Regions from separate parts of the Homo sapiens genome. Here regions 1 and 2 are each reported to be linked to region 3. Evidence: microRNA targets listed by miRTarBase, many of them from high-throughput screens and not tested one by one. Region 3 holds a microRNA gene; each other region holds the end of a gene's coding sequence.
What was found. Region 3 holds the annotated microRNA hsa-miR-4676-5p (GAGCCAGUGGUGAGACAGUGA, at 1,100-1,120, opposite strand). A microRNA usually pairs through its seed, bases 2 to 8, with sites in the 3' UTR of a target mRNA and lowers its output. Matches are read on the target gene's strand: a 7mer-m8 pairs with bases 2 to 8, a 7mer-A1 pairs with bases 2 to 7 and ends in A, and an 8mer does both.

Region 1: the mRNA of BBX is a reported target of hsa-miR-4676-5p. Seed matches in the 3' UTR shown: 7mer-m8 at 1,534-1,540.
Region 2: miRTarBase lists CHCHD4 as a target of hsa-miR-4676-5p. Seed matches in the 3' UTR shown: 7mer-m8 at 1,858-1,864.

What each region holds. Positions count from the first base shown.
Region 1 is chr3:107,805,161-107,808,160 of GRCh38, forward strand. BBX (BBX high mobility group box domain containing) reads left to right here. Exons shown (of 18, transcript NM_001142568.3): 18 at 210-3,000. The coding sequence ends at 297. Among named protein-coding and RNA genes, the nearest start is that of LINC00635, 71 kb to the right of the region's middle.
Region 2 is chr3:14,110,342-14,113,699 of GRCh38, forward strand. CHCHD4 (coiled-coil-helix-coiled-coil-helix domain containing 4) reads right to left here. Exons shown (of 3, transcript NM_001098502.2): 3 at 1,736-2,853. The coding sequence ends at 2,546. Among named protein-coding and RNA genes, the nearest start is that of CHCHD4, 13 kb to the right of the region's middle.
Region 3 is chr10:72,719,158-72,722,157 of GRCh38, reverse strand. It overlaps MIR4676 (microRNA 4676), which reads right to left and starts at 1,129; the gene lies at 1,058-1,129. The region is part of intron 1 of MCU (mitochondrial calcium uniporter); the gene reads right to left.

The sequences.
Region 1 (3,000 bases), not on the chromosome of region 3:
ACAGAATGGGAAGGAGGAAGGGGAAAAAAAGGATAAGGAAGGGGACAGAAGAGAAAAAACTCTAAAGCAAAAACAGTTTTCATTAAATGATGTAAGTAACAGCAGTAACTGTTAAACAAGATATTGGAACACACTTGTTATTCATCGTCCTCTCCTGTCTCTAATAACATATGCTGAATAAGTGACTTTTTCTTCCTTTTATTTTACAGAGGTCAGAGGTCAACTCCGCTCACCCATGATGGACAGCCAAAAGAAATGCCGCAGGCTCCTGTACTTATTTCCTGCGCTGACCAGTGAAGCGCCCTTTCATTGTAAAACATTGTGCTTTACCTACTACCCTAGCCTTGTCTTTACCGAGGGATGCTAGTGAGTCCAAGTGGTGGAAAATATAGACTGCAAACAAGTGCTTGTTGCCCCACACGGCCCAGATTCACTTGAAGCAGAAGTTAGCATCCTGGGCCAGTTTGTTCTCTCAGAACCCAGAATCTTTGAGGGTAAGGTTATCTGTCTGATACTGAGCAGAAACAGAATGATCCTGGAGCTTTGCTTTCTATTGAAGGCTTTTGACGGTAATAGGTGGTAACTTGGTAAAAGGCTGCCTTTACTGTAGCTCACCCAGCATCTCTTTTACCAACCAGAGAGTGTGAAACTAGTTTCATATATTACCTAGTTATTCTTTCAAAACAAAACAAAAAAAAAACAAAAACTGACGCACTGCACTAGTTATTATTAGATATTCTTAGTCTTTTTTGTACATGGAGATTTAAGTTTAAGATGGTTTATATAATAGGTTATACCTACATTTATATTGTAGAATAAATATTAAAAAGCCTGTTCCAGAGACTCCCAAGCAGCCTGGGCAGGCAGATGTACCATTGTTAGTGGTGTATGCTCGGCCTCGTGGTCCATATATTCTGCACTTTTATATTTGCCACCAGAATGGTAGTTTGCTGGCAAAAAAAAAAAAAAAAGAGAGAGAGAAAAAATTACAACTCTTACAATCTGAATTTTTTTCTTAGCCTTGAGTGACCAAGAAGAATTTGCTTGAGGCAAATTGTGGCAAATATTTTCCCAGACAGGGGAAGAGTCCTGCAGATTACAGATTACTGGTGTTTTCATGCCTTGAGGATTCTTTTATTTTTACATAGGGGTCTAAGTGACCAATGGATTGTTCATACAAACAAAAAAAAAGACAAAAATATTATTCAGAAGTGACCTTAGTATTACTTCACTATTCTAAACACATTGAAGACACTCACTTCATGTGGACTTGGAGCTACAGACCTTTTACATCCATCACAGATTGGCTGGACGGGTTGCAATTGCTATGCACAGCCTGATTGGCACTGCAGGTTTTTAGAGCCATTTTGAGTTTGTGTTGTTTAGGAGGTACTGAGTCAATGATGAGGGAGGTATGCCTGACCAGAGTGGGACTCTCAGTCATAGATCCACCTGCAAGTCTCTGTTTCCTTTTTGTGTTTTGTTGCTTTTGAACATAAAACCAACCATACATAAGCAGCGCCAAGTGGATTAACTGGCTTAGAACATTCAACATATTGACTTAACCACCTGACATTCACAGTGTCTTGTTTCCTAGCAACAGATGCAAAGTGATAAATCAAAATTAGTCTGAGGCTACAGATTTTACAGGGTATTTGTTCTATAGCACAAAGTATTTCCCCACTCTTGCGTCACAGCACAAACTACCAAATTTTAATTATTGGATTCCAGCAATAATTTTTAATGGTTTTCAAACTGGCGGAATTTTGACAGTGCTAGTTCGAGTTTGAAGCTTTTGAATTAGATCTCTAAATGGTGACAGTTTACATGGTTTTATCTAGCTTTCTTATTTATACTTGACTGAATTGTAATGATTTTTTTTCTAATTGTAATTTGACGTAATAGCCATACAAAAAATGACTCTATTCATACTAGGTTTAGCTTCTCATGGTTGTAGATATTACTTCAGTTCCGGTGCTGGAAAATATGTACAACATACTAACAGGATTGAAAAAAAAATAGAGGTTTTTCTTCTTGTTTTTTTTTCCAAAGCAGGTAAAGAGGGTAGCAAAGCATCGGAATGATGTGCTCAAAAATGCATATTCCTGGTGGGGATGGAGGAAGAAGGCATTAGTAAAAGGTTAATCAAACGTTACAACTTAACCCCATTCATGTAGGAATAAATCAAGTGAGCAGTTCCAGACTTTTGCATAATATTTTTACTATGATGCTGTTTTATTAATATTTTCTAAATTTCAAAACAAAAAGTGAATGTTTGAAATTGCTGGGTCCCGATGTTGGTGGCTGTTGGAGTTTTGGACCACTCGCTAGCAGTGATTTGAAGATTATAATTAGCTAAAATCCAAAACAAAAAACCAACAACAAAAATTGTATGGTGCGGAACATGCACCTTGACAATGGTACTAACTTGTTATTCTATAGAACACGTTAGAATAGATCTATTTTTGCCAGAGCACCCTCCTTCAGTCCTCCGATTACATTTCACTAGAGTTCCTTACGAGATTGCTGTATATTCCTGGGACCTTTTTTAAAAAAAAAAAAAGCAAAACAAAAGATTACTTTTTTTCTATGTGATTAATATCTTACTTGATCTGCTTTTCCTAAACCTCAGTGGCTTTTCCCTTAGGCAGGGTTGGGGGTGGGAGGGCAACTTACTGGAGATGACTGTTTTCAGATACTTTAAAACAAACCTTTTTGTAGAAATGCTTAATTTTTAAGCGGTTAGGCACTGAGAGTAGCAGAAATCCTGCAAAGCTTTATAGTTCCTTAGACTCACCTTGTCGATTCTCTGAGTAAAGTCTTGATTTCAATAATTGTGCTTCTCATGCCCTGAAACTGCTGGAGAGGAGTGTTGTTATTTTCAGGTAACAACATTCGTTAGCACAAATATTTCAGACCAATATTAGTGCTCTCCACCCCACCTTTTGTTATCATTTTCATTTCATTTCTCTCATTCTTTTTTATTTTGGAAAATCATAT
Region 2 (3,358 bases), not on the chromosome of region 3:
AGGCTAAGGCAGGAGGATCGCTTGAGCCCAGGAGGTTGAGCCTGCAGTGAGCCATGATTATGCCACTGCACTCCAGCCTGGACAACACAGCGAAACTCTCTTAAAACACAACACAACAAAACAAAACAGACATAAAACATTGTGTTGGTAATTGCATTTCCAAATCAGTGTTATTTTGAGCAGCCCTTTGTTTCAATTATTGCTGTTCTTTAAAAATCATCAACTTGCATTTATCTGAATCATTAACTCTTTGATCTATTGGTGTTCTTACATTTAAAGATACACAGCAACTTAAATATGAATTATCCAAACCCCTTGTAGTAAAGCATAATCTCCACCCACTTCCAATTGCTTATACGGTGCCAATTCCTTATCACCAATTTGTTTTTCCAGTGATAAGTGGAAAAGGATGGAACCTTTTGCCTAACCCAAGTCGAGTTGGGCAGACAGTTCGAGAATCTCTGCTGTAAGTTACCATGGCTGGAAGAACCCAGCCCTGAAAATCCAGCACCATTATGTAACACTCATCCATTCCTTTCTGCTTTCTAGTAAATGTTGACTTCCTGGCTAGATTGTAGCTTCATGGGCAGTACCATGAATGAATCACTCTATGTCCCTAGGGCTTGGAACTGTAGATTCCATGAATGCATCAAATAAATGGGGTACATGACATGGTCACAAAACAGTAACACCTTGATTGTGACCAAAATTTTAACAAAAGAAATATCGTTTTTAAATGTGCAAAACTCTGTTAAAAGAAGTCGTTAGGGTCTGTCATGCCTTCCATGCTTGGCCAGCTCCAGGTTCTTAGCTCCTAATCAAGCAAGGTTTAAAAAAGCTCTGGATATAGAAAGCAGTTCTCTACCTCCATACACCTCCCAACCACAAATCCTTGCATTTTAACCATGCCTTCAAGCTTTAACATGGTGGCGCCTCATTCTCCAGTGTGGCAGGCAGCTTCCTGTTACTCGTATTCTTGTGTCCCTCTCCTTGAGTGTGGGCTGTGTCTCACTTCTAACAAACAAATAGACTATGGTAAAGTTATGGAATGTCCGTTTTGAGATTAGGTGATGAAAAGGCTCTGGCATCCATCTTGCTCTCTCGCTTGCTCTGATGGAAGCCACCTCCCATGTTGTGAGCTGACCCTTTAAGGCAAAGGCCATGTGGCAAGGAACTGAAGGAGGTGTCTGGCCAACAGCCAGTAAGGCACTGAGGCCCTCAATCCACAGCCCACAAGATTCAACCCACTGAACCCTCCCAGAAACCACTTCGAGCGATCTTGAAAGGCCTGTCCCACCTTGAGATGACTACAAGTATCATAGCCTCATGAGACACTGAGCCAGAGAACCCAGGTAAGCCATGCCCAGATTCCTCGTTTCAAGCTATTAAGTTTTAAGGCAATTTTTTACATAAATAACTTAACACATTTGAGACAAATGAGGCATTACTATGCCACAGCCTGAAAACTGTCTAGCAGTTACCTTAGGCAAGTTAATCTATTTTCAAACAGGAAGAGCCTTCCCCACCTCATAGACTAACTGTAATGTCTGTGTGAAGGCATCTGCTCACATATAAAATAAGTAAGCTTCCTTTGAACTCAACACAGAAAATTTTAACGGACTCAAATTGGTTTACCAATATCTTTCAAGAGGAATTTCAATTGAATTGTTCATAATTTATACTTTTTTATATAGAAAACATTTTTAACTAGTGAAAACAAAGGACACATTCAAAATCAGGTAGAAATCATGTTTCCTTTTAATTGAATACTTAATTCACAACGTTTCCTCTCTTGCTGCTACTCTGGTAATAATTAGGTCCCCACCTCTCAAGAACATTGCACCTGACTAGACTGAGAGCCAGTGTGAACATGGGCCCCAAACCAGGGCTTTCGGAATAACAAGGAACAGCCAAGCCAGCCTCTCCCTTCACTTAGAAAGGGATTATGAATGGAAGGGTCCAAATCTTCATCATCCAAACACAGAAAACCAGGAGCTCAACACCTACATGGAAACCAAAATGTATCAGGAATAAAGTACAGTACCCCTTCACATACTCAAGGTCAAGATGGGTTTGCAGAAATCATATCTGACCATCTGGCCTCTGCTAGTAGATATGGCCCCATCCCAGCATTTTTAAGAGATGTTTTTGTTGTATTATTTCCCCAAGGGGTATAAAATCTACCAAAAGGAATATAATGAATCAGAATAAATCAGCTCACTCACAAGAAACGTTCTTGGGTAATGGTTTTTAGTTGCTGAGCTTATTCAGCACATTATTTAAAAGTGGCAAAATTCAGGGCAATCTGAGAATTCAAAAGTGGCGGCCACAGGTTTGGGTAGGACACACATACATACAACCCCCATTTTTTTCAGTGTATATGTCAAGATGTCAAGACCTCAAGACCTCTGATCATCAAAATAAGTTATTTTGTATATTATAATGCACAGGACAACAGAAGGAAACTTTCTTGGAAGGTGATGACAAGGCCTTTTGCAAAAGGTCCACTCCAAAAGGACTGGTGCCCAGTGCCTTGTGGCCTTCATTAACTTGATCCCTCCTCTTCTTTGGTTGCAGTGGCCTCAATGGGAGCTGTTTCTTCTGCTTGTTCTGCTGGCTTCTTCTCTCTTTCCTCTTCCTCATCCTCATCCTCTTGGGGATAGAGGTCTGGGTATTTCTGCATGCATTCCTGCATGGCCCGGAACTGGTCTACACAGTCTGACCCCTTGATCTCCTCCGTGCTATAGTGGAAGCAGGAAAAGGCTGACTTAAACTGTTCTCCACAGGGACCGCTGGCCATTCCCCCAAGGCATGGGCAGTTCCAGTTAATGTTTCCATTTGGCAGTATCAATCCTAGAACAGGAAGATAGAGAGATGTTCTCTAAAGTTTCAGAAAATACAAAACTAGTCCAGTCCTCACAGGCTACTGAGGGGGTGCAGAACAGGAACTATTGTTGCCTATGGACCCACACCTCGATTTGGATTAGGTTTAAAGCCTAGCACATATCCAGCATTCCTTGGCCCACCTGGGAGAGAAGCCACCAATGACATATTTCTCCACGTGTGACACTAATTTATTCTAAGCCACCTCTCAGTGCTCTGAGGCTGTGCTCCAAGAATTAAATACCGGGACCCATTTAGCCCAAAGAAGAGGAGATCACTTGGATGGTTAGTGAGGAGCTTTTTGAAAGCCCAAACACTTTAAGGAACTGAGGTATTGATCTCCTCTTTCCAATCCCCCTCCCCATATGGATGATCAGGACCACCCCACCCCCATGCTCCCTGCCCCCCTGAGCCCCTCTTGCCCTGCAGCTGCTCTCAGAAGCTCAGCATAGCCTGGGGACTGGTGAAAAGGAGG
Region 3 (3,000 bases):
ATGTTATACTAATCTACACGTTAATATTTATACCAAGAATTCCCTATAAACCCAATTTATCTTCAAATAAAGTGTATAAATTCCATTGTTTCATAACTTAGCACAGATCTTCAAACCCACAATGATGTTACTGTGAGAACAATATACTATCAAATGTACACTTAACCATAAATATTGTTGCATTCCCCATAAGGAGCCTAAGTGGATAGTAATTCAAGTTGCAATTACCAATAAGAGGCCCAAACTGATTTGTTTATATGTATCACAGATATTTTCGTTTCAAACAAAATGAAATGCTTCTTTTTAAGTCTCAACAGCAAATATAACCATTATGCCCACCCACAGATGACATTGCCTAGAAATAGCAGTAATGCATCACTACAGCAAGGCACTAGATGACTACAAAAACACTGTAGTGTATATTAAAATCATCTCAGAACAACCAATAAAATAAAATTTTCATGCAAGGAGATCATGGAAGACCTTACTGAGAATATAATATTTCAGCAGAGACTCAAGAGGGAAAAGAAATAAGAAAACCTGTATATATTCAGGAGAAAAGCATTCTAATGATAGAAAACTGCAGTGCAAAAATCCTATGAGGTAGGTGCATGTTCAGCATGTTTGAGGAATAGCAAGGAGGTCAGTATCACAAAATGGAGTGGGCAAGAGGGAAAGTGGCAGCAGATGGGAGTCAGACGGGGAGCCAAATGTTCAACAGTGATGTGCTGAAGCCGATATTGACTGGGGAGCAGATTGCTGTACATTCTAGAACTTTGAATCAGCCAGAGTGGGAGTAATTATACCAGTAAAACAGGCAAATGCTACAAATCAGAACCTTTTCCCCCTCCAGAGAGCCAGTTTATTGTCACTACCTGTAGGCCCCTTGAAGAACTTTGTCTTTTACTGAGTGAGATCAGAAGCTACTGAATAAGTCTCCTTCTGCCTGATGTCATCATTCCCACTGCTGAATTACGACCAGAGGTAAGAAAGAACAAAAGCAGGGAGACTAATTAGAAAGCTGTTAATATAATCTAGGTGAGATACATTGTTAGCATGAACCAAAGAGCCAGTGGTGAAACAGTGAGAAGTAATCAACTCACTGTCTCACCACTGGCTCTTTCATTCAGGCTCTGGATATAAAGAACTATTCTTACTTGGATCAGTATGTAGCAACAATTACTAAGCTTCCTGTCTAGAAATCAGTATCTAACTCTAACCTAAACATGTCATTCCTGGTTCTGAATTAAGACTGTTAGTTGGATGTATAAAGTACTTCAAGAAGCTCAAATAACCAGGAGTCTTAGATGCACGTTACATATCTTCAGCTATTAAGGGTTCTATTATCATTTCAATTGATCAACATATACATTTGTTGAACATCTATTATAAGACACTGCAGAGAATACAAGTAAAATCTGTAATCCAAGCCCTTTCCTCAAGGAGGTTACAATCTGAAGTTTAAACTAAAGCATCCGTATATAAAAAGATAGATTCAACACAATGGAAGTATAAAATGTGTGGCAGGGCTAAGGAGTATTCTATAAATTGGAAAGGAGAAGGAAGAAGTCACTGAACAGATAGGACTTGAGCTGTGCCTTGAAGGATGGATAGAGTGAGATGATGAGAAAGGAACAAACGGAACAAGTCAGGGCCTAATAGTCAGTGGATCTGCAAAGTGAAAGGGCTAAGAAAAAGGTGGGAATGCACTTGGTGATTAAGGAGTAATCTATTCATGGCATTCAGGAGCATGGGGAGACAGAGGTTACAACTGGGAAGTATGCAGACATATACCTGAATTCCTAATTCCATCACTTACTAGCTTGAGCAAGTTACATAGAACCTTCCTGTCTTTATTTCTTCAGCAGTAGAAATTATAGTACCTACTTTATAGGACTGGTGCACAGAATAAATGAAATAAAATCATGTATGTATGGCATGTCACACAACCTGAAAGTTAGTAAGCAGTCACTGGTTATCAGAAACATTATTGGCCAGGCACAGTGACTCATGCCTGTAATCCCAGGCCATAGTGGAAGGATTGCTTGAGGCTAGGAGTGCAAGACCAGCTGGGCAACCTAGTGAGACCTTGTCTCTCCAAAAAAAAAAATTTAATTAGATGGGCGTAGTATTTTGCACCTGTAATCAGTCCCAGTTACTCAGGAGGCTGAAGTGGGAGGGTCACTTGAGGCCAGGAGCTCAAGACCAGCCTGTGCCACACGGCAAGACTCCCATCTCAATCAATCAACTAATCAATCAATAAAAATGATTGGGAAGTGGCAATGGTTAATGGGCACAAAATAATTAAAAGAATGAATAAGACCTAGAATTGTATAGCACAACAGGGTGACTATAGCCAATAATAATTTAATTGTATATTTTAAAATAACTAAGAGAATATAATTGTATGTTTGTAATATAAAGGATAAATGCCTGAGGTGATTTATCCTCAAGTCACTGGAAAAACCAAAAGTGACAATAAGAAAAATCACAAAAAGAGCTCTGTTTGGGAAGAAAATTCTACATTCTGGTTATGTTAAGTGATACCTTAAAGCCAAAAGAACATGTAAAATACACACACAACCAAGACTACAGCTCACTTGCTGATGTAACAATCAGTGGGAAGGAACACATACCAGCACTCGTAAACACATGAATATTCCAAATGCACAACTATTTGACCGATCATTCTTTACTGTACTAAAAGAATACCTGAACGTTTTGACTTGGTGAATCAAAACAGACCAAAAGGAAAAGATGTCCTTCTTTGGGGCATCTCAAAAACCTGGTTACAATAACAACAGATTATTAACATCAGCTACTTTATTCTTCTTATAATACAAATAAGACTAAGACTGTAACAGCTCCAGTAACATAATGGTACCTTGATAATCCTATAATTCTGACAGCATATATTCTAAGATAAAAGGTTCATTTGCTCAACTGGTTCTCTACATATCCTTTAAATGTTAACAGTGAAATGCTGTGTGTTTTCCAGAA